7 linked regions of the Homo sapiens genome follow. The protein of the gene in region 5 interacts with the protein of the main gene of each other region in a pairwise test. Each region holds a gene or a part of one and is shown on either strand. Other genes may lie near its edges. The genes, in order: DMRT3, IGFN1, ZCCHC14, LMNA, USP54, SEC24A and PLA2G6.

Evidence for each region.
Region 1: the proteins of USP54 (region 5) and DMRT3 interact in binary tests that used the Homo sapiens proteins (3 or more experiments, as listed by UniProt).
Region 2: the proteins of USP54 (region 5) and IGFN1 interact in binary tests that used the Homo sapiens proteins (3 or more experiments, as listed by UniProt).
Region 3: the proteins of USP54 (region 5) and ZCCHC14 interact in binary tests that used the Homo sapiens proteins (3 or more experiments, as listed by UniProt).
Region 4: the proteins of USP54 (region 5) and LMNA interact in binary tests that used the Homo sapiens proteins (3 or more experiments, as listed by UniProt).
Region 6: the proteins of USP54 (region 5) and SEC24A interact in binary tests that used the Homo sapiens proteins (3 or more experiments, as listed by UniProt).
Region 7: the proteins of USP54 (region 5) and PLA2G6 interact in binary tests that used the Homo sapiens proteins (3 or more experiments, as listed by UniProt).

What each region holds. Positions count from the first base shown.
Region 1 is NC_000009.12:983,155-986,654, forward strand, and holds part of DMRT3 (doublesex- and mab-3-related transcription factor 3), read left to right. Parts: intron 1-3,500. UniProt on the Homo sapiens protein: Probable transcription factor that plays a role in configuring the spinal circuits controlling stride in vertebrates.
Region 2 is NC_000001.11:201,193,824-201,197,323, forward strand, and holds part of IGFN1 (immunoglobulin-like and fibronectin type III domain-containing protein 1), read left to right. Parts: intron 1-330; coding exon 331-450; intron 451-2,015; coding exon 2,016-2,155; intron 2,156-3,394; coding exon 3,395-3,494; intron 3,495-3,500.
Region 3 is NC_000016.10:87,420,025-87,423,524, forward strand, and holds part of ZCCHC14 (zinc finger CCHC domain-containing protein 14), read right to left. Parts: intron 693-3,500; coding exon 583-692; intron 1-582.
Region 4 is NC_000001.11:156,124,711-156,128,210, reverse strand, and holds part of LMNA (lamin), read right to left. Parts: intron 2,042-3,500; exon of another isoform or gene 2,008-2,041; coding exon of another isoform or gene 1,988-2,007; intron 1,657-1,987; exon of another isoform or gene 1,560-1,656; intron 1,476-1,559; exon of another isoform or gene 1,409-1,475; coding exon of another isoform or gene 1,296-1,408; exon of another isoform or gene 1,262-1,295; intron 1-1,261.
Region 5 is NC_000010.11:73,500,843-73,504,342, reverse strand, and holds part of USP54 (ubiquitin carboxyl-terminal hydrolase 54), read left to right. Parts: intron 1-70; exon of another isoform or gene 71-159; intron 160-3,500.
Region 6 is NC_000005.10:134,721,785-134,725,096, reverse strand, and holds part of SEC24A (protein transport protein Sec24A), read right to left. Parts: intron 1,531-3,312; coding exon 1,427-1,530; intron 118-1,426; coding exon 3-117; 3' UTR 1-2. UniProt on the Homo sapiens protein: Component of the coat protein complex II (COPII) which promotes the formation of transport vesicles from the endoplasmic reticulum (ER).
Region 7 is NC_000022.11:38,171,831-38,175,330, forward strand, and holds part of PLA2G6 (85/88 kDa calcium-independent phospholipase A2), read right to left. Parts: intron 1-3,500. UniProt on the Homo sapiens protein: Calcium-independent phospholipase involved in phospholipid remodeling with implications in cellular membrane homeostasis, mitochondrial integrity and signal transduction.

The sequences.
Region 1 (3,500 bases), on a different chromosome or scaffold from region 5:
ATAAAAGGCACAATCAAGTACCAAGTAACAATAATAATAATGAAAAACTTAAGAGTCGGCACATCAATTCTTTACAAAATCTCCAATCTCTTGATTACAACAACTAGGCAGACATAAATTTTACAGAGCTGGGATTAGTGTTCCACGTTTTTCCCACTGATTATTACTTTGTTTAGTTCAGTATATATCTCTAGCACCCATAATCTTTATATGTAAGCATTTAAAACAATATTTCCTCCTGTGAAGACACCATGGTCTGCCCAGCTGCTATCCTTGGAATTATTTGCTGTATTTCACTGTGAAATATAACCAACTGCAGCTTACTTGGAATTTTGCAAAAGATTAGTTAGTAAACTGTATGCCTCTCAGTGGTCAAGAGGCAATGCTTTGATCATCTCTGTATGATCTTACCCAGCACAGTACATGAGAGCATAGTAAGGCATTTAGGGGCATTTGTTAAATAGATGGATGAGTTAGACAGGTGCATTTTGGAAGGTACCAAATAAACATGTAGATTTGTAGGTAATTTCCCCTCTGCTTCTTGGAAGGTATTCCCTTCTGAGTCAAGAAAGAGATCAAAACTAATTTTTTACAAAATATGTGAGGTCCACAGTTGCAAACCATACTTCCTTCAGCCCAGTCCTGTCTATAGCAATATTCCCCCAAAATATAGTGTCAAGGAACCACTCTGATTCCTTCATACGTTATTAATTCAGTGTTGTTAATGATTTTTTAAAAAGTAAAGCATGGCTAGTTTTTTTTTTTTTTTTAACTTTTCACAACCCTCCCCAACCCGGCAATCCACCCCAGGAAGAAAAGGAAAGTTTTTAGATCGAGATCATTCCCTGGTGTTCTTTAGATTTTCAACTATTCATTTTTTTAAAATAATTCATCACTTCTAGTGTGAGATGAAGGTAAGAGAAAATGTGAAGCGTTTGTCTACGATTAGAATTCTGATTAGGCAATGGTCTCCTGTAAAAGTCTCATCCTGCCTGGGCTCCCTCCCTTGCCATTGTTGTAAGATTTATGTGCTTTGAAAACTACCCATCAAGGACCTGTTATTTACAGGTGTGTTCCCCACAGCTCAAGTGAACAGATGAGGATATGACAATCTATGTTTCAAAATGCGTGACATGATTTCAAAAGGGATGGGGGAGTCCAGTGACTTTTGAGCTAGGAAATATTCCTCTCTGCTCGAGTTTTTCTGTGTTTTCATTCTGTATGTAAGAACTATTTTGTTTTCGTAGATATAATTGGATAGAATGGATATAACCTATGACATCTAAGTCAGAAAGATTTTTCACATTTTTTTTTTTTTATTTAGACAGTCTAATTCTGTCGCCGCAGCTGGAGTGCAGTGGTGAGATCTGCAGCTCACTGCAAGCTCTGCCTCCCGGGTTCACGCCATTCTCCTGCCTCAGCCTCCTGAGTAGCTGGGACTACAGGCACCTGCCACCATGCTCGGCTATTTTTTTTTGTATTTTTAGTAGAGATGAGGTTTCACCATGTTAGCCAGATGGTCTTGATCTCCTGACCTCGTGATCCACCTGCCTCGGCCTCCCAAAGTGCTGGGATTACAGGTGTGAGCCACCGCGCCCAGCCAGATTTTTCACTTTTATGCATCGTGAGCAGAATGTTTGTTTCTCATATGTGGTAGACTTTCTCAAAGTATTTGAAATAATACATTTTTTTTTTACTAAATTGCATTTTTATGTGAAAAACTCCCCTAAAGAAAGTTACATTTTCAAACTGTAATTTTAGATTGAAAGCACTTTTGTGAGTGTTTATTTTCTCTCTTTAAAGTCTTGTAGCAAAAAAAGAAAAAAAAGTATTGTAGTCATCTTATGGCATATATATTTTGAAGTCGGTAGCATTGTTATCTGTAGAAAAACTTTTCTTTTTAATTGAATATCTACTTCTTTTAAAAACCTCTTTACCCTAGTGCACAGTTTATTTCAGGGATAGCTATAAGTGTTTCTACCCCATGAAATATGAAATGGAAGAGAGAATATTAAGATTTTAAAAATATGTACATGTTTAGCAATAGAAACAGCATATTGTATCACTTTCAGTAATATTTGTCATATTCGATAAAATTGATTTCTTCCCTGTTTAATAGCTTTGACTTTCTATACCCATCTACCGGGGTAAAAATATTATCAGTTGATATACACTCTTAATGTTCTAGGAATTAGGGTTTCAGTTTCAAGAAGAAAGAAGGTAAAATGTTTCAGGAGTATTTCCTATTTTATTTTGTTAGTTGGCAGTTTCACATTTCTATGTCTAGAAAGGCCTTTATGTTTTAAACCAACTAGAATGATTTGTAAAGTTTATTTAAGAACAAATCTGGAGATGTAAAGAAGTACCTGTTATTAAATTACACTTTATCACTGGGCTCAAAACTCACCCTCTATAATTACCTGTGAAAGTCTGTATTTATAATAGAATAATTTACAATATATTTAGTTTAGGTGCAATAATACAACCAGTACTAGACACCATAGCGCCACAAAATTGCAGGAACTATATATCCTGCCCTTCAGAAATTATTGTTTGGTGAGGAGTTATTCTTGGTGCAAAGTTAGAGGCTAGTCTTCCTTTGCCTAGTTTTGAAACTCCAACAGCCTTACATGTTGATGGGGATTTGGCTCACCCAGCACTACTTAGCAGGACCTTGTGTGCGGCTCAGGTGCATAAGCCTCACAGGTGTGCTCTGCTTGTTCTTTCATCATCTTTGTCTTTCCTTTGAACACAGTGTAAGCAGTGCTGAGCTCAGCTGGTTGGTTGGTTTACGCTGAATTTGTAGATTTGATTCCTGTGACATTGTGTTAGCTTTTCTCATATTTTGGCTATAGCCAGACGGCACAGAGACCTGCGGAGAGAGCATGGAGGATTCGGTGTAATCTATCACCACTCCTTGACAAGTAACCAGAAGTGCATGATGCACTAGCATGTCCCAGTAGCAGGGGCAAAGGGTAACACAACAAAATGAGAAAGTGACTTTCACAGTCTGAGAGTTCACAATTGCTGAACAAGCTGGCACTGACATAAGATTCCACTACCGTCTGTTCCGCAGAACTTAGGAAAATAGGTACAAGAGTGGAATTTTATATTGTCAGACTTGTAATCCTGGTATCAAGTATTCAGTTGATTGGGACAGTATATCTGTTGCTACCTTGAAAAAAAAAAGCCTCCATTTTTGTAATGGTAGAGTCATTATGTTAGTGAGAACCTCATTCCCTAATTCCCCTTTCAGTTAGCCTTCTGCTGTTTGATCCACTTTTTTTCTGGAGACTGAAGTGTACTGTGGAAGAGTCAATTTGGTTGACAGACCTGAGAAAACACTTCCTAATATGTTTTCAGTGTTTGAAACTTATCTAAAGTGGGGGCAGGGGATGTACCTTTTAAAACACAAAGCTATTTGGTTCATATATTTCTTTTAAAAATAGTTGAGCTGGCCGGGCGTGGTGGCTGACTCCTGTAATCCCAGCACTTTGGGA
Region 2 (3,500 bases), on a different chromosome or scaffold from region 5:
CCTGCTTCTTGGCTTCCTGAGAAGGAGCCCTTTCTCACTCTTTCTTCCCAGCTTTTCCCCAGTGACACACTCAGGGTCTTCCTAGGGTGCCCCACCCACTTCCTAGAGGCTCCATTCACACTGCCAGAGTGTGTGCCACCAGATTCCCACTAGAGAATTCAAAAGCACTGTGCACAGGCAGGAGGTACTACAAATAATCCTGACCCAAAAGTAGGAGCGAGAAGGGGCTTCTTGCTCCTGGGGTGAGTGGGTGGATGCCCATTCTGTTGAAGGGCCACCCAGGAGGAAGAAGGTGGAAGGCCCCATCTCCTTCCCTCCTGCATTCTCCAGGAAAGCTCCGGAAGTCCCACATCCCTGGAGTGAGCATCTGGCAGCTGGTGGAGGAGATCCCTGAAGGCTGCAGCACGCCGGACTTTGAGCAGAAGCCCGTCACCTCGGCTCTGCCAGAGGGTGAGCCCAGAGGGGAGCTGCGGAGGGGAGGCAAGATTCTTGCTCTCCTACCTCCCAGGGGAGAGGGCTGGGGCACCAACCTTCCTGGGGACCCAGGCCCTATATCCATCACTAGGCCATAGCCCATCTCCCTCCTATCCTTGAGGGGGTATGTGCTTACCTGGAACCCTAGAAGTGACAAGAGGCCTGGGGAAAAGAGTGGATAAAGAGAGTGAAGAGACACCATGCTATTCTGGTGTGAGAAATATCTGGGGGGCAGGGATGGAAAAATGCTAAACTGGGGAGCAGGGAGAGGTTGTGGTGTTTCCTGGTCCCTGTCTCCTCACCTCAAAGCCACTGCTGCAGAGAGGCACTGTTAAAACAGTTAATTTGACTCTTCCCAATCCTCGCCTCCAGGCAGCAGCACCTGCTGTGGCTCACAGGCTGGGCTCAGGAAGGCCCTTCTAGAAGGCCACATAAGAAGGTGTCCAAGAAAGTGGTGGGAACAAAGGCTTATTGGGGAAAAAGTGGGAATTGGTGTTCTTTCCCCAACACACACCCTGCAATAAATTTTAGTTCATAGCATCCTGGTAATAAGAAAAAGAATGGTATTTTATTTTTCTAAATCTGGAACAAGGTAATGAGAAATTGGGAAGGGCCCTTGGGCCTTTGGTCTATATTGCTGTCTACTGAGATGTTCCTGGTGGGAGGCTGAGGGATTCCTTGAGGGCGGGCAGTTCCCAGGCCTCCATGACAGGCATGGAGCATGGGGTCTTTTCTGAGGCTGAAGCCTGTGTCTCAGCACCGGATCCTTCGGGCACCAAATAGTCACTCCTTCTCCTAGTTGTGATTCCTCCTCCCCCTAGAGAGTAGGAAGGGAAGCCAGAAAATCTCTTCTTTTTTTTTTTTCTTTTTTTGAGATGGAGTCTCGCTCTGTTGCCCAGGCTGGAGTGCAGTGGCGCAATCTCTGATCACTACAACATCTGCCTCTGGGGTTCAAGTGATTCTCCTGCCTCAGCCTCCCAAGTAGCTGGGATTACAGGCACATGCCACCAAGCCTGGCTACTTTTTGTATTTTTAATAGAGATGGGGTTTCACCATGTTGGCCAGGCTGGTCTCGAACTCCTGATCTCAGGTGATACGACTGCCTTGGCCTCCCAAAGTGCTGGGATTACATGCGTGAGCCCCTGCGCCTGCCCGGAACTCACAAAATCTCATTCCCTTCCTAGTCTTGGCAGAGCCTTCAGACTCCTTGCTCACCCACTCTCAAAGAAAAGCCCCTGTCCCCTAAAGCCCTGCTGGCCTCCCCTTTCACCAGGGCCAGTCCACCTGTCTCTTTCCCTCAAGCAGCCCAAGCTTCTGCAATATAGAAAGAGGAAGCACTGCCTTCTGGGTGCCTGGAATCTGCTGCTTTCCACCTGCGTATTCTGAGTCCTGAGTCAAGGGGACCAAGGCCTGGCATCCTTTTTGGAAGGGGCAGTTGAAATACCTAGATGAGGAAGACGATATAAATTAAAATTTAAATAAAGTATACAGTCACCCTCTCCCAACTTGTCAGTCTCCCTACTCGTCTCTTCCTGCTGCAGGGAAAAATGCTGTCTTTCGGGCTGTGGTCTGTGGGGAGCCCAGGCCCGAGGTGCGTTGGCAGAACTCCAAAGGTGACCTCAGTGATTCCAGCAAGTACAAGATCTCCTCCAGCCCTGGCAGCAAGGAGCACGTGCTGCAGGTAAGAACCGTAGCTCTTCCCCTGACCAGGGTCTACTCGTCTTTTCCCATCCCCTTGAAGGTCTCTTTGGCAGCCTCCAATCCCTAGAGGAGTAAGACATACTCCTCGTTGAGGTTGAATCCATTCAACTCCATCTCGTGACTCAAAGTTGCCTGAGCCAAGAATGGATCTGGCAGGCTTGCAGATACCTCTGCTGATAACCTGGGAGGTGGTGTAGACTGGAGCTTAAGAGCTCAAGCTCTGAAGTCAGACTGCTGGAGTTACAATCCCAGGCCCACCACCTTGGCTTTAGAAAGTCATTTTACTCTTTTTACCTCTGTCTCCTCATTTGTAAAAATGGGATAATAATAGTACCTACTTTAAGGAGTTGTTATGAGTTGTTGTTGAGATGGATCTCACTCTGTCGCCCAGGCTGGAGTGCAATGGCGTGATCTTGGTTCTCTGCAACCTCCACCTCCCAGGTTCAAGCGATTCTCCTGCTTCAGCCTCCCAAGTAGCTGAGATTACAGGCATGCGCCATCACGCCCGACTAATTTTTGTATTTTTAGTAGAGTTGGGGTTTCACCATGTTGGCCAGGCTAGTCTTGAACTCCTGACCAACAATGATCCATCCGCCTCGGCATCCCAAAGTGCTGGGATTACAGACATGAGCCACTGCGCCTGGCCAGGAGTTGTTATGAGGATGAAAGTTTTATGTAAAGTGTCTAGCTAGTGCCTGGCCTATAGTGAGTACTCAATCAATCTTGGCTAATCTGAGCAATATTATAAATACTAACCATGGGATACCTACTATGTGCCAGGCCCTACTATGTCCCAGGGGCTAAATATTTGACATAGATTATATATTTAATTCTAATTATTCACCACTTTTTTGAGGTATTATATTCCCATCTTACAAATGAAGAAACTGAAGTTGAGAGAAGTTAGGTAACTTGCCCAAGGTCCCACAGCTAGTAATACAGGACAGAGACTGTTTTCAGGCCCAGATCCATCTGACCCCAAAAAGCACACTCTTTCTACTTCGCTACATTGCCTCTGATGGCAAAGAATTGATACATCCACCCTCTGTCCCAAACCAGGTTTCTGTTTTGGGGTCTGTCTTTCCTGATAAAGACTGTGAGCTCCATGAGGACAAGGACCATGTCTTACTCACTTTATACCCCCAACACATAGCCGTGTCTAGTAAATGGAGGAAGGGGATGTGGTAGCCCTGTTCCTCTGCCCTTGGCCTCTCTGCAGATCAACAAGCTGACAGGCGAGGACACGGATCTGTACCGCTGCACAGCAGTAAATGCGTACGGAGAGGCCGCTTGCTCAGTGAGACTCACTGTCATCGAAGGTGGGC
Region 3 (3,500 bases), on a different chromosome or scaffold from region 5:
ATTCAACTGAGTTCTTGCCCGACTGCCACTGCTTCTTCAAGCCCTTCCTCTCAATGCTGTATTCATGGCCACCAAGGTTGACGACAGCAGTCATGCCCTGTGACATGAGATCAGTGCCACCCACCAGCCAGAAAGGTGCTTGGACACTGGTCCCCAGGGCCCCGGCAGCAGCACATTTACGGAACTGGTCGGCCATGTTACTTCGTGTGCCACGTGAGCCAAGACACGATCGAGGGTCCAGAGAAACTGTTTAAGAGACGCCAATTTTATCTGGGAATAGTCTCAACCTTGGACTACAGGATGGAAACAGCAGCCCAGGATTATTTCACAGGACTGCCAAAGCCCAAGACGTGGTGGGACCCACCCTGGAATTCCCTTCCTCACACACTCAGAACCACTCTCAGCTTACTGAGGGCTCCCGAATCCTCCAGAACTAATGGAAATCCCTAGAGGCCAAGTAGAGACCCAGGTCCAGGTGACCGCGCATCCTCCCAGAGCTCCTTGGAGGACCACAGCATTGACCACAGGACCAGCCTGTCCTTGCCAGCTGTGGACGCGCCGGGTGCCTGGTAAGGGCCTCACCTCAGGCCTGAGTCCAGATCCACGTGGTTTCGCTCCACATAAAATGCGTCCGGACCAGCTAAGCAAGGAATGAGTTTCTCCAAGTTCTCTTCAGGATAGAGCTGACATAGCTGGAAGAGAGGACAAGGTAGAGGAGGTGTGTCCAGACCCATCCAACACCAGCAGAATTCTGCTACTGCAGGAAAACCTGGGGCAGGTGCTCCATGGTGCCGCCTGCTGGTCTGATATGATTTACACCTCCCGTCAGAGCTATTCTGGGGCCCACATCCACTTAGGGTGTAGAAAGTCACAAAAGAACATCGCTCTCACAGTTACATCCGGAAAAGCTTGACAATCTGCACAATCACAATGTTCCTTGAGCCCATCTGAGAGTTGCTGGGCCACTAAGTCAACTTAATTTCAAACGGGACCTGCTCCCATGACAAGCCAGGGCACAAGGCCCTGGTGGCTGCCACACCAGCAGGTCTGGAGAGACAGGTTCCGATGGACACACTGCCACAGGCTGACGTGGCCAACAGAAATGCCGGAGCCCCAGGCGGGGCAAGTGGGCCCTTCTTTCCAAGTTCCTTTCCGCAGGAGGAGCCAGAGAGAGCCCCATCGGTGGCACCTGGGGACCGGGCACCAGGCCTAGTGCAATTCCCGGGACCACTCTCTGGATCTGAGGAAAAGCCCTTAAGACGTTGCAGGAGGGACAAAAATTGCTCCTGGCCCCAGAGCCCAAACCAAAGGCCCGGTTTTTAGGAGTGGGGCAGGGACAATACTTCCCTTCCTCTGCCACCAGTCACAAGAAGACCCGCTGCTCCTGGAAGAAGGGGAAAAGCAAAAGCGCTCTGGTGCTGGAGGAGGTCAGCTCCTGCCGGGGAGGGCAAGGCACTGAGGAAGTGCCACCCCGAAGCCCAGGCACACAGGCCTGCCCAGGATCAGGCTGGGCTGCAAGAGTGAAGGCCCTTGCCCCCACAAGCCCAGCACCAGGTCGCAAACAAGCAGCAGCGGTCTACCCCCGAAAAGGGGCCGAGAGGGTAGAGAGTGCCCTGCTGTGTGCCACAGGCCTGCAGGGACGGCTGAAAGCTGGGAGTGAAGCAAAACGGCGGAGAAGACCCTCCAGACTCAGGCAGCAGCTGCCTTCACTGGAGAGGCCCTGAGGGTAACAGAGGCAGCAAGAGAGCCCAGTGCCAGCTTCATCCTGCCCAGATGGCCTCCAGGACCCCACTAAGGGCCCTGGCAGAAGAGGTGTTGACCCTTTCCAGGCATAAATCTCGCTCTCCTCCGGCTCCACGGTCATCTAAACATGTCTGACATTCAGTCAACATTTGCAAGACATACCAAAAAAAAAAGGAATAAAGGGGGAAAAAACTATTGTCAAGAGATAAAGCAATCATTAGAACCAGATTCAGAAATAACTCAGATGTGGGACCTAGTGACAGGGACTTTAAACAGCTATGATGGATGTACTAAAGGACCTAGTGAAAACGACAATATGCACAAACAAGCGGGAACTTTCATGAACACGTTTCAGCAGAGAGATGGAAACTTCATGAACACGTCAAATGGAAAACCTAGGGGCAAAAACACAAAAGAAACCCCTGGCAGCAGAAATGAGGACTTGAGTACATGGACAGGCTCCACAGCAGCCTGGGCAGAACTGAGGGGATCGGCTGGTGTGGAAACGGGCACAGGAACCACCCAGACGTACACACAGAGAAATGCACAAGCATGGGAGAGCCGTGGGGCGGCAGCACCAGGGGTCTGAGGCTCGTGCCGCCAGAGTCCAGGAGAGGGGAGGATGCGGCAGAAGAAATGCTTGAGGAGAAAATGGATAAGAATTTTCCAAAATTAGGCCAGGTGCAGTGGCTCACACCTGTAACACCAGTACTCTGGGAGGCCGAGGAGGACAGATCACCTGAGGTCAGGAGTTCAAGAGCAGCCTGGCCAACATGGTGAAACTGTCTCTACTAAAAATTAAAAAAAAAAAAAAGAGAGAGAGCTGGGCGTGGTGGTGTGCACCTGTGATCCCAGCAACTTGGGAGACTAAGGCAGGAGAATTGCTTGAAGCCGGGAGGTGGAGGTTGCAGTGAGCCAAGATCATACCACTGCACTCCAGTCTGGACAACAGAGTGAGACTCCATCTCAAAGAAAAAAAAAACAAAACAAAACACTGAGACAAAAGCCCAATGAGAGGTCGAAGTTCCAGCCGGCAGGAGTGGAGTCCAGGGAAGCTGTGTTTAACAAAAGGGGAAACTACACACAGAGGCGAGGAGATTTAGTATTTTAAACACTACAGAGGGAAAAGCAGATTCCCGGGGGGGGGTGTGTGTTACCCTCGAAGGCGTGGCACTGTCGTGTTCTTCAATGCCCAAGAGGCCAAAAAGATAAGTGTAATCAGACATCGTCCTCACTCCATGTTCTCCTGCAGGATGAGGCCTTGGCTTTATAATGAAAAGTAAGGCTCTCTTTGGAGACATTTACATATGTTATCCCATTCACAAAGCTGACTGCCTGAGAGGCATCACTTTGGCTGAGACAGTCGTTCACGCTACAGCACAGGCCAGTGGGCCCTAAACACGTGTGCAGTTACAACTGTGTGTACACATGCACACGGAGGCAAAGAGGCATTTATTTAGTAGTGGAACTTTCTGTTCAATGGTATCTGCTGAACCAGATATTTGTAAAGATAAACGTGGGAGGACCACTTGAGCACCAGGAGGTCAAGGCTGCAGTGAGCTGTGATGATGGTACCACCACAACCCAGCCTGGGCGAGAGCAAGATCCAGTCTCTTAAAAAAATAATAATAAAATAAATAAATAAATAAAAACAGATAAAGGTAGAACTAGGTGAAGTCTCTACCCACTCAGCCACCTGAGCATGCCTCTCTCCCCCAGCCTTTGCCAAGGAAACCTGGGGGACTGAAAAGTAACAA
Region 4 (3,500 bases), on a different chromosome or scaffold from region 5:
ATATAGAGCTTATTAGGTACCAAGCACTGCTCTAAATATTATGTTAACTCACGTCATCTTCACAGCTACCCTATGCGATAGGTGCTATTCCTATGCAATTGAGGAAATAGGCACAGAAAGCTATATCTAGGGTCCCGCAGCAAGTAGATAGGGGAGCTGGAAATCCATGCTGTACCACTTTGGCACAAGCCACAGTATATGGTCTCCAAGGAAAGTAAGGGGGCTGGCTGAGTGTGGTGGCTCACACCTGTAATCCCAGCACTTTGGGAGGCCAAGGCAGGTGGATCACTTGAGGCCAGGAGTTCGAGACCAGCCTGCCAACATGGTGAAACTCTGACTCTATCAAAAATACAAAAATTAGTCGGGCAAGGTGGTGCACGTCCATAGTCCCAGCAACTTGGGAGGCTGAGACACGAGAATTGCTTGAGCCTGGGAGGCGGAGATTGTAGTGAGTTGAGATTGTACCACTGTACTCCAGCCTGGGTGACAGAGTGAGACTCTATCTCAAAAAAAAAAAAAAAAAATTTAGCTGGGTACGGTGGTGTGCACCTGTAGTCCCAGCTACTGAGGAGGCTGAGGTAGGAGGATCACTTGAACTTGGGAGGCGGAGGTTGCAGTGAGCCGAGATTGTGCCACTGCACTACAGCATGGGTGACAGAGCGAGACTCCATCTCAAAAAAAAAAAAAAAAAAAAAAAAAAACAGTAAGGGGGTTATTTGTCTTTCCCTGGTGGAGGTTTTGACTAGCACTGCAAAGAGAGGAGATTAAAGGACTAAGACACACCCTGCAGATGAGAAAAACCACGAGCAGAGAGGGAAGTGAGGAAGAACCTTTGTGGTTTTCTTAGGCACGGGGAGCTCCCATCTGCGGGGAAGAAGCCACTATCACCCATGGGCTCATGACTCAGACCTTGGGAGCTCTGTGGCCAGGGAGCCACACGCACACCCCAAGAGATGACTAGGGGTACAGTAGAGCCCAGTGTCTCTCCTCCCTCCTCCCTGCCCCCGCCCCCAAGTGCCATTTCCTTCCTAGGAGGGGTCCTCAGACCTAGCAGGGACCAAAGTAGACCCTAGCCAGGCATTCGGTCCCAGGGTGGTGGTGCAGCCCACTCCACTGGGGGTTGGCATCAGGAAAGCTGAGCACACGCTGAGTGCCGTCCCCGTGCTGGGTTGGCAGGGAGGACAGGGTGGGGCAGGCCAGAGGAGCTGGGAAGGGTGGGAACCTGGGCCCCTCAGGTGACTCATGCTCAGGCACACAATACCCGGGCAGGGGTCGGGAAATCCTCTAGTGCTCACAGGGGAGACCCTGGCTTCGCCCGTGTCCTGCCCCAGGCCGGGTGCTGTGCCAGCAGAGTGCCAGTCCTTTCCCTTGCATCCTCCAGGTTCCCCAAGCACAGGAGTGGCTGCATCCCAGTGGCCTCTTGAGGCGAGAAGGGCTGGGCATCCTGTTTCTAACTCTTCCCATCACTGGCAAATCTGATCTCAGAAAGAGGGAAGAGAGGGGGTGGGGAGGGGAACAGAGAGGAAAAGAATAAGGTAGAAATGAGAGTTGGCACTTGCAAATGTGACCCAAGGCAGGGGTCTGAAGAGCTGTGCCTGGTGGGACAAGGAAGTCCGGCTCCCCAGCTGCAGCAGGCCCGGGCCCTTGGGGCTGTTTGGGGAAGAAAGGCACCAGCACAGCAAAGGGGCTAGGTGGGCACCGGGCCAGGCGCTGACCCACCCTCTGAGTCACCCTGCTCAGCCCAACTCTGATGCCAGATATGGAAGCCAGGGCCGGCCACAGGCCTGTTTGGGCCCGGTTGCTGGGGGCAACAGGCTAGGCCCGGAGGGAGAGGCCTCCGTTTCCTCTCCCAATCTGGGGGAGAAGCAAGAGGGACAGACACTGTAGCTAAAAATAACAAGTGGGAGGGGAAGACAAAGGGGAGGTGGAGGAGCTGGCCCAGCCCTGCAGGGACTCCTTAGACCCACTCCTCAGCAGCCCTGCTCACCAGCCCTCAGAGTTCCCCATTGCCAGGCAGCACACAGGAAGGGAGCAGAAGAGCAGAGGGTCTCCCAGCCCCTGGGCATTTCCTGTCTCCCAGGAACATCGCCCCCTGTGGCCGGGTGGGTACAGGGAGTCCGCCTGGTGGCAAATGCTCTCCTGTATCCTCCTGGGCATCTAATTTGTTTAATTTTAATTTAAAATTTTTAATTGTTTAATTTTAAAATTTTTCATTTATTATTATTACTATTATTATTATTTTGAGGTGGAGTCTCATTCTGTCGCCCAGGTGATCTCACTGCAACCTTCACCTCCCAGGTTCAAGTGATTCTCCTGCTTCTCAGCCTCCCGAGTAGCTGGATTACAGGCCTGCACCACCATGCCTAGCTAATTTTTCTATTTTTAGTAGAGACGGAGTTTTGCCATGTTGGCCAGGCTGGTCTCGGACTCCTGACCTCAGGTGATCCACCCGCCTCCACCTCCCAAAATGCTGGGATTACAGTCATGAGCCACCGCGCCCAGCCCCTATTATTATTATTTTTGAGACAGAGTCTCACTGTGTTGCCCAGGCTAGAGTAGAGTGGCGCGATCTCGGCTCCCTGCAACCTCCACCTCCCAGGTTCAAGCAATTCTTGTGCCTCAGCCTCCAGAGTAGCTGGGATTACAGGCGCCTGCCACCACACCCAGCTAATTTTTGGCATTTTTAGTAGAGATAGGGTTTCGCCATGTTGGCCAGGCTGGTCTTGAACTCCTGACCTCACGTGATCCTCCTGCATCAGCCTCCCAAAGTCCTGGGATTACAGGCGTGAGCCACCACACCCAGCCCCTCCTGGACACCTAGACCTCTGCCCAGGCTGACTTCCCGCCATGTGACAGGGCGTCTTCTGCTGCCACCCCAAGCCACTCCTACCACCCCTCCTTTTGTTCCAGCAACTCCTCCTACTGCAATATATCCTCCTTCTCTCTGTCCCTCCCTCCCATTCACCCAAAACCTCCCTACCCCTCAGCCTACTTGAGCCTGTCTCAGCTCTGCCCTGCTGATTTCAGCCAGTGTTCTACCTGTTGGGTCGTGGGGCTTTTTCTGTGTGTCCCACAAATACCCGGAGACTAGACGGTTCACAGGCTCAAGGCTTCTAGAGGAACCTTCTCTTGAACCAACTCCTATACTTTTACAGGGGGAAACTAAAGCCTGGAGACGGGTAGGCTCAGGCACTAAAAACCTGCCCCCAGGTCACCTGAGGACACTCACAGCAGATTGGTGCAAAACATAGAAAATGGCACGATACACACAGACACTGCAGAGAATAACACAGAGAGACCCAGTAAGACAGTCTGGGAAGCGTGTCTGCCTCTGTCTCGCTTGCTGGGAGATACCCCAGTCAGAGAGTGATACGGAGGCCTAGTGAAAGTGCCACTCCCACCCACCCTCAAATATACACATACTCACACCTTTGTGTGCGGCCAATCATGAGGTTTGATAGCCCCTACCTCCCCCCCAACCCGGCAAAGTAACCACTGCT
Region 5 (3,500 bases):
GGAAAGCCCAAGCCATTAGAGATCAACAAACTTAAATAATATCAGTGGCTAGGTTTGTAGGTAATCATACCTTTGGAGAATTTCACTTCCTTGCCCAAGTTGAGTGTTCATCACAGTAGAGGTCAGGGTACAAAGTACCAGTGCATTGAAGGTTGTCCACTAGGTCAGTTCAGGAAAAATGTAAAAACAGATTTTAAATACATGGTACAAAAATAAAAAGGTATAAAAGCATATATGGTGAAAACCAAGTCTGTCTTCTACCAGCCCTTCAGATTCAGTTTCCCTCCTAAGAGGTACTCATTTTTCCAATTTTTAAAAATCAGCCGAGGCCAGGCGTGGTGGCTCATGCCTGTAATCCCAGCACTTTGGGAGGCCAAGGATGGTGGATCACCTGAGGTCAGGAGTTCGAGACCAGCCTGGCCAACATGGCAAAAATATAAAAATTAGCCAGGCATGGTGGGGGGTGCTTGTAGTCCTAGCTACTCGGGAGGCTGAGGCAGGAGAATCGCTTGAATCCGGGTGGCAGAGGTTGCAGTGAGCTGAGATTGAGCCACTGCACTCCAGCCTGGGTAACAGAGCAAGACTCTGTCTCAAAAACAAAACAAAACAAACAAAAAAACCCAGCCGAATTTATAGTAAGTTTCATTCAATTTATCGTTCATAAATTCCTAAGCAATTCTGATCAGGCTGCCATTCTTTTTTGGAAAAGGTGGACTCTCCTGCCTAGCATTTGTTCTCATGTACTTTCAATTCATTTAATGGCAAATTGTTCTTTTCCTAGGAGAGTTGGCTTCCTTTCTTCTGACTTCTGTATCATTCATTGATTCATTCTTTTAAATAAATGCTTATTGATTCTGTACAAGATTCCTAGCACAAAAATAAACAAATAAATAAGTGCTTATTGAGTGTGTTCTAGGTATTGTGCTAGGTGCTGGAGCTACAATGGTGAGTTAGATATAGTCCCTGCTTTTATGGAGCTTACAGTCTACAGTGAGGGACGGATAAATAAACAAACAGTTATAATGTGTTAAGGATTTGATCCTATGGGAACATAATAGAAGGGATATTTAAATCAGGCTTGAGGTATCATGGAAGGCTTCCTGGAGGAAGCAAAAAGAATATAGCAAGTAAAAGGGACCTGAGCAAATATTAACTGAATTAAAAGAAGCTTATTTAGTATGGCAGGATTAGAAAGTCTGGCAAGGGGAGATGATGGAGAGTGTTGACAAGAGAGGATACAAAGAATATTATGGACCACAGACAGCCCTGTATGTCACAGTAAGTAGTTTGGAAGGATAGAGATAAGTCGATGTATTTGAGACCCAGTTAGGAAGTAAACATCAGTGGGAGTTGGTGCCTGCCTGGATGTTGGGAGTGGGGATAAAGGATGATACTCAAGTTTTATGGGTAGATAATGATATATTTGAGGGAAGATATGCATTCAGTTTTACATATATTAAGCTTGAGTGGAGGTATCTGGCAGGCTTTTGGAATGAGATATATAAGCTGCAAATTGAAATCTGGGAATCATAGCCATTGAAAAAGAGGAAAAGACTTGCAGAAAGAGAAGAGGAGCCAGGACATATCCCTAAAGAGCATCAGATTTAAGGTGGTTCTTCTGAAGAACCCTAAAAGGAGACTGAGAAAAAAAGATTAGAGAGACTGAAGGGAAACCAAGGATGTGTGGTACCATAGTCACCAAGGGGAGAGTGTTTCAAGAAGAAAGGAATAGCCGGGCGCGGTGGCTCACGCCTGTAATCCCAGCACTTTGGGAGGCTGAGGCGGGCAGATCATAAGGTCAGGAGATTGAGACCATCCTGGCTAACACAGTGAAATGCCGTCTCTACTAAAAATACAAAAAAATTAGCTGGGCGCGGTGGCGGGTGCCTGTAGTCCCAGCTACTTGGGAAGCTGAGGCAGGAGAATGGTGTGAACCCAGGAGGCAGAGCTTGCAGTGAGTGAGCCGAGATTGCGCCACTGCACTCCAGCCTGGGTGACAGAGCGAGACTCCGTCTCAAAAAAAAAAAGAAGAAAGGAATAATTAGCTGTGTCACATGCTGAGAGGACTGGCACCTGGTCCTTAGGCAGTATGATAAATGCTTACTTTGTGCCATTTTGTAGTAGGTGCTGTGAGCATACACTGATGAAACAACACAAATTCTGCCCTTGAGTAGCTTGCAGTCTCGTAAAGGAAATTAGACATACTGGCATATAGATTATTTTATTTAATGTATTATTACTAAGTGCCCACATTGTTCTAGGCACTGTTCAAGGTGCTGCGGATACAGAAGTAAAAAGAAATAGGGGAGAAGACAATAAACAAATAAATGACATAATGCCAGACAATGATAAGTATGATAAAGAATAATAAGGCAAGAGAATAAAGAGTAAAGAGGTAATAGTGGTTTTTTTGAGGGCTATTCCTGATAGTAGGGTAGTGAGGGAAATCAGCTCTAAGGAAGTAACTTTTGATTAGAGATCTCAGTGATATGAAAGTATGAGCCATCAGAAGAATATTCTTGGTAACAGAAACAGGAAGTATAAAGACTCTGAGGTAGCAATGAGCTTGGTGTGTTTGAGGAATATTAAAGTTAGAGTGTAAAAGCTCCAGGAATGATAGGAAATAAAGTGAGGAGCAGCAGGGCCATATCACACAGGACCTTGTAGGCCACAGTAAGGAGGAGTGGATGGGAGATAGGAAAAGCAGATTGAAGGCTGTTGCAGTAGTCCAGGTGAATTTAAATATAAAACCCATAGGTAGAAATGATAGTCCTTGGCAAGTAATGGAATTGTGGATGGGAAGTGGGAAATCAAGGTCATTGCCAATGTTTGAATATGGGTGATTTAGGAAAATGAGGTGCCAGGAGGAGGAGTTTGGAAGGATTTTGGTTCAATTTTGGATATGTTAGTGTTTCAGATGTTAAAGGGGAATATTTCTGGGTATTTATCATAAAAGTAGATAACTAATAGGGAGTAGAGCAGGACATTAGCATCAGTAAATACAAACTTGACAGGCAAAAGAGGAAGCTGTGGAATGTGTAGCAGTGACAGGAGAGAAGATGGGGTAGAGTTCTTGATTCTACATTTAAACATATATAGTTTCATTCCCAGTACTTAGAATAAGTGAAGGATTTTTTTTTCTCATTCTCTCAGGCTTTCTGAATTTCTCATATTTCGTTTTTATTTTTAAATTTCTATCTCAATCTCTCTAATTCTACTGTTAGCATTAAGGAGTTTGCTAAAGACCTGAATGATAGGGTTGGGAAGGTGAGGGATATGAGGAAGACTGGTTAAGGGATAAGGATCTGAAGTTTGCAGTTTCTTAGAGGGCTAGCAGGGAGAGCAACTGAGTAAATTGGGTCCTGTTCCAGAACAAGGCATGTAGGCATGTTTGTGCTCTGGTTCCCTCCATTTCCCTTTGCTTGCCTCACTGTGTTTACCCAACTACATCCTGCTTTGTGTTAATCCTCATCTCTATGTTTTTTTGTCTTGTCTCATTA
Region 6 (3,312 bases), on a different chromosome or scaffold from region 5:
ATTCATTTATTCACTTGTTGCTGTATATGCAACAGGAATTCATAATATGATAATGCAGATTCTGTTCTGTCTTCTATCATGTTTTGAAGGAAGTTTGCTTTCATTGGACTCTCATCCCTTAGGAATAAAAGGCAAAAAAATTTAGATAAAATGTAGCAGTAAAATAGACTTGTCAGAAGGCTTTTGATTTCCTCATAACCCTAATAACATTTACTATATAAACAGTTACTTCTAGAGGCTTTCTCTGAGAATACTTGGTTGATTATGTAAATTTCAAGTTGTTTAAGGGAAAAGCTTATGGTGGAATTAAGAGAAATAGTTGATCCAGAAATTCCATTTCTGAATATATATCCAAAGGAATTGAAATCAGTATATCAAAGAGATGTCTGCACTTCCATGATCACTGCAGCATTAATCACAATAGCCACGATATGGAAATAACTGAATGGATTTTTCAAATGTGGTATATATATACAATGGAATTCTACCGAGCCTTTTTTTTTTTTTTGAGATGGAGTTTTACTCTTGTTGCCCAGGCTGGAGTGCAATGGCACGATCCTGGCTCACCACAACCTCCACCTCCTGGGTTCAAGCTATTCTCCTGCCTCAGCCTCCCGAGTAGCTGGGATTACAGGCATGTGCCACCATGCCAGGCTAATTTTGTATTTTTAGTAGAGACGGGGTTTCTCCATGTTGGTCAGGCTGGTCTCGAACTCCCAACCTCAGGTGATCTGCCCGCCTCGACCTCTCAAAGTGCTGGGATTACAGGCATGAGCCACCGCGCCCGGCGACTTCAGCCTTTAAAAAACAGGAAATTCTGTCATTTGTGACATTATGCTGAGTGAAATAAACCAGGCACAGAGAGACAAACACCACACGATCTTACTTATGTGTGGAACCTAAAAAAGTTGAACTCATATAAGTAGAAAGTAGAATTATGGTTATTAGAGGCTAGGAGGCAGGAAGTGGCTATGGAGAAGGAAAGAAGAAATGTTAGTCAAAGGGTACAAAATTTCAGTTAGGATGAATGGATTCTGGTGATCTATTACACAGTATGATGACTATGGTTAATAATGATGTATTGTATATTTTAAAATAGGCAAAATAATGGATTTTAAATGTTCTCACCACAAGGAAACAATAATTGGCTGAGAAGATGAATATGTTAATTAGCCGAATTTGATCATTCCACAATGTATACATGTATCAATAAATTAGTGTACCCCATAAATATATACACTTATTATTAGTCAATTAAAAATGAAAAAAGTTCTGTATTTCCAATCATTGGATATAAGGTATGATTTACTGCTATTTATTGAGAAGAACTCTTTTTCTTTCTTCTTTTTTTTTGCTATACTCTTGTCAGGTCCTGGCAAGGCCAAACAAATTGTTTTACTACTAGCAAATGGAAAATTCAACTTACCTTATTACATAAAGTATTGGGAAAAATGGTCTCTGCTCTCTAAGCCAAGAGATGAAAGCTATTATTCTGGCAGATTCTGGTGTATCAAGTTCTGGAAGGTCTGTCTGTTAACCAAAACCAACAATATCCAATTACTTTAATTACATATCTAATGTATGGTCTATGGTACTTTTCAAATTTTTATTTTTTTAATTACATTTTTTTTCTTTTTTGAGACAAGGCCTCTGTTGACAGGCTGGAGTGCAGTGGCATAATCATGGCTCACTGCAGTCTCAACCTCCAGGCTCCGGTGATCCTCCCACCATAGCCTTCTGAATAGTTGGGACTACAGATGCGTGCCACCATGCCTGGCTAATTTTTATATTTCTTGTAGAGATGGGTTTTGCCATGTTGCCCAGGCTGATTTCGAACTCCTGGGCTCAGGCGATACACCTGCCTCGGCCTCCCGAAGTGCTGGGATTACAGGAGTGAGCCACAGTGCCCGGTCTACTTCTCAAATTTAACTTATTTTTTGAGACAAGGTCTTGCTCTGTTGCCCAGGCTGAAGTGCACTGGTGTGATCATGGCTCACTGTAACCTCCACTGCCTCCTGAGGCTCAAGTGATTCTCTCACCTCAGCCCCACCAAGTAGCTGGAATAAGAGGCGTGTGCCACCTGCCAGGTAATTTTTGTATTTTTAGTAGAGACGAGTATCTCACCACGTTGCTCAGGCTGGTCTTGAACTCCTGGGCTTAAGCAATCTGCCCACCTCGGCCTCCCAAAGTTCTGGGATAACAGGTGTGAGCCACCATGCCTGGTCTTGAATTTTAACATGTATATGAATCACCTGATCATCTTCTTGAACTACAGATAATGATTTAGGAGGTCTGGGGCAGGGTTGTGGTCCTGAGATTTTGCTTTCCTAAAAAATTCCTGCAGTGATGCCAGTGCAACTTGACTTGGGAACACAATTTTCTACGAATATTCTAGAACAGGAGTAGGCAAACTTCTTAAAGGCCCATATAGTAAGTACTTTAGGCTTGCAGATCATTTGGTCTCTGCTGCAACTACTTAACTTTGCCATTGTTTTTTATTTTTTGAGACAGAGTTTCGCTCTTGTTGCCCAGGCTGGAGTGCAATGGCGTGATATTGGCTCACTGCAACCTCTGCCTCCCAGATTCAAGCGATTCGCCTGCCAGAGATTCTCCTGCCTCAGCCTCCAGAGTAGCTGGGAGAGTAGTTGGGATTACAGGTGTGCGCCACCACACCCGGCTAATTTTGTATTTTTAGTAGAGATGGGGGTTTCTCCATGTTGGCCAGGCTGGTCTCGAACTCCTGACCTCAGGTCATTCGCCCACCTCGCCTTGAGACGGGGGTTTCTCCATGTTGGGCAGGCTGGTCTTGAACTCCCGACCTCAGGTGATTCGCCAGCCTCGGCCTCCCAAAGCGCTGAGATTACAGGTGTGAGCCACCACGCCCGGGCAACCTTGCCATTGTTACACCAAAGTAGCCATAAACAATACATAAGTGAACAGGCATGGATGTTCCAATAAAACCTTATTTACAAAAACAAGTAGCAGGTACCCCTTGGGCATAGTTTCTAAGCCCTCATCTAAAAAAACCTCTTAGTTCTTCCCTTCATTTTAGCATGACGTCAAGAATTAATTGATTCGTTCAGTTATTATTAAAAATATAACAATTTCTTACTCATTACCTAAAACGCTTAGTCATCCAGCCCAGTAGTTCTGTTTAAGGCCTGAAAGCCAGTGCTTATCCTAGCTATAATCCTGACACAGCAGTCTTTTATTTATTTATTTTTTGAGACAGGTTCTTGCTCTGTTGCCCAGGCGGGAGTGCAGCAGCATAATCACTGCTCACTTCAGCCTCAACCTCCCAGGTCCTAGCAC
Region 7 (3,500 bases), on a different chromosome or scaffold from region 5:
AAAAAAAAAATTATAAAGACAGGGTCTTACCACGTTGCTCAGGCTGGTCTCGAACGCCCGGGTTCAAGCGATCTGCCTGCCTCAGCCTCTCAAAGTGCTGGGATTACAGGTGTGAGTCACCGTGTCTGGCCTAAAATGTTCTTGATACACCATCACCAGATGCCAGGTTCTCTCTCCTTGCTCTGGGCTCTCCCTCACTTTAAACACATCTGTACTATCACAGCCCAGCATGTTACAACTGCCCCTCCTGCCAGACGGTAAGCTTCGTCATCCTCCTACCAAACACTCCTGTGCATCTTGCTGGCACCATCCTGAAAGCTTTACGTACATTAATCATTCTGTCTGACAACCACTCTATGAACTGGTTACTATTATTATCCTCATTTTACATATGAGAACACCAAAGAACAGAGGGGTAAAGTCACGGGCCCAGGGTCACCCAGCTAGTGGGTGGAGCAGTGAAAGCTGGCACCCAGATGGGCTGGCCCAGAGTCTGAGTTTCTCAAAGGCAGCTGCTCGTCTTTTCATCTCCGTCCACAAGCTTGGCTCACAGAAAGTTTGTCAAAACAAAAATTTAACTGAGTAAATATTATGCATAGAAAAAACAAAGCCTGATAGAAAACAAACCAAGATAGACTGACAGAAAACATGCCATTGAGTAGATGAGGGTGCTGGGTTTATGGGCTTTTGTTTTTTCCTTTTCCCTATTTTCCAGATGCTATGTAAAGCGATTATAGTTTTCAAAGGAAGTAGCAGTATAGGCTGAGCCTCTGGGGGCTGCAGCCGGGAAGATGGGGACCTGTGGGACTCAGGCCTGGCCTGGAAGAGCGCAGAGAGGCTACCCCGAGGACGGGCCCACAGGGACGCGGAGGGGTGCGCCCAGGAAGGGCAGAGAGTCAAGAGCATCCAGCACCCATGAGCCTCAGATTGAGGGAGAAAGTCACCAGGGGTGCAGTGAAATCAAAGAAAGATTCCACACACCCCTTCGTCAATGGCCCAGCCTGTGTACCCCCCACCAGAGCCTGGGGCTAGGGGATGCCCCCCACACACCCACGACAGCATGGCCACAGAAACGACAGGCTTGGCTGGCATCCAGCCTTCAGGGTAGGCAGGAGGACGAGATGACGCAATGGAGGGAAGGTGTCTGGGACACAGGCCGACTGTGGGCACACAAACAGTGGCCATTGTTATCACTAGGTGGAAGAAAGGAAATGACAGCCACGGGGCCACATCCTGGAACACTCACGGCATTGCCAACCAGGAAGGCGGGCCAGCAGGGAGAAAGTGCTCACACGTGCTTCCTTCTGTCCCTGCCACCTTGGACCCTGGAGCCTAGGCTCTTCCCAGCACAGCTGCAAGAGGGGGATGGTGGATGAGGGCCCCCCGCATCATGCCTCACTTCATCTCTCCCCCTGGCTTCTCACAGCGTCCTACCCTTGACCTTCCCGTGGGGTAGACAATCACTTTTCCCCACTGATGACCGGCCCCTCCTCCTCCTTACCTGGGCTTCTCCCTGCACCCCCAGGATGCCCAGGTCACCTGACACAGACCGCACCTCGGCTGTGTCAAGCAGCTCTCTCAAACACCACAAGCAGAAAGACAAAGACCCAAGACCTTTGGTGGTGGGGGTTGACAGTGACAATTCTGCCTGTCCAAGCCAGGCAATTTCCAGGTACCAATTTTGGTGCCCCTGCTGAGGGAAGCCAGATATTTCTGGCCGTTTTCCTTATCTCTGCTCACCCATCCTCTGTCAAAACCAAGCTTGCCTGCTGGGTTCATTGAGGGAAGACTGACAGAGAGTGTGCTGGTGTGAGGGTCCCCTGGAGGAGCTGAAGGACGGGAGGAACAAGTATTATTATCCCATCTTCCCATCTCAGAGATCAAGAAACTGAGGCCCAGAGAGGCCCTGAATTGTACATGTTCAAAGGGCAAATTAAGGCCGGGCACAGTGGCTCGTGCCTGTAATTCCAGCATTTTGGGAGGCTGAGGCAGACGGATTGCTTGAGCCCAGGAATTTGAGACCAGCCTGGGGAACATGGCAAAACCCTGTCTCTACAAAATATAAAATAAAATTAGCTGGGCATGGTGGTGTGCGCCTGTGGTCCCAGCTACTCGGGAGGCTAAGGCAAGAGGATTGCTTGATCCTCTTGAGGTCGAGACTGCAGTGAGCCAAGATTGCACTACTGCACTCCAGCCTGGGAGACAGAGCAAGACCCTGCCTCAAAAACAAAACAAAACAAAGGGCAAATTAAAGTTGATGTCCACCAAAAAACAAAAACAAACGGGCTGGGCGCAGTGGCTCACGCCTGTAATCCCAGCACTTTGGGAGGTTAAGGCGGGCGGATCACGAAATCAGGAGATTGAGACCATCCTGGCTAACATGGTGAAACCCCGTCTCTACTAAAAATACAAAAAAAATTAGCTGGGCGTGGTGGCGGGTGCCTGTAGTCCCAGCTATTCGGGAGGCTGAGGCAGGAGAATGGCGTGAACCCGGGAGGCGGAGCTTGCAGTGAGCCGAGATCATGTCACTGCACTCCAGCCTGGGCGAGAGCGAGACTCTGTCTCAAAAAAAAAGAAAGAAAGAAAAACAAACGAAGAAACAAAAAACCTCGAGTGGGAACAGAGGGAGATTGGAGCCAATGGTAGCATCTCTGATGAGTTCCCTGGAAGTGACTACCTGGGTTCATAAAACAGTCAACAGAGAGACCCAAGACCAGTCCCTGTCTCGCCAAGTGCACGGTCCCCTGAGGGAAGGACCCCTAAAGGGGATGACTTTTTAGCTGAACTTTCCAGGAAGAACAGGAGTTTGCCAGCGGGGGAAATGGCGAGAGGCCTTCACAGCAGATGAAGCAGATCAGAACACGGAGGAAGGCAGAGATCAGGGGCTTGCTCAGCCCACCCATGAACGGTGAGCATTTTCACTGGGACTGGACGGCTCGAGAGGGGAAGGTGCTGAGAGGAGGGGCCGTGGTTAGTGCTGTGATCAACGTGAACACAGGTCACCTGGAGCCACTTGTCCAGGGCTGCTATGTCAGTCACGCCCCTCGCCATGCCCAGGGAAGCTCCTCTCATGACGAGGAGCCAAGCCCCGGAAGAAGTGCAGTAGAGGACAAGGGACCAAGAGGGTGGCTCAGAGCGGGTGGTGAGGGAGAACTCAGTCCCAAAAATCTGGTTCCTCCTCAGCTACGAATTCCCTGAAGGACCCTGGGCAGGTCTCAGGCACGGGAGGAGCGGTCCCTGCCCTCTGATTGCTGCTACCTGCCGCAGCTGCCAGGCCCAGGCAGTCCCCTCTCCTCCCCTTTGGAAGGTCTGTGTGAAAACTGCTTTTCTGTAGTGAAAGGGGCCTGCACTTGCGTCCTCCCTGGAATGCGCTCTCCAGTTCCTGCTGGAGCCCCTGCTCATCCTTCAAGGCCCAGCTGCCCCCTCTGAATGCTCAGAGCACCAGAGTGCCCTTCCAGCCTGCACGGTTCCCAACCCAGCCTGACACCCCTCCATGCCCA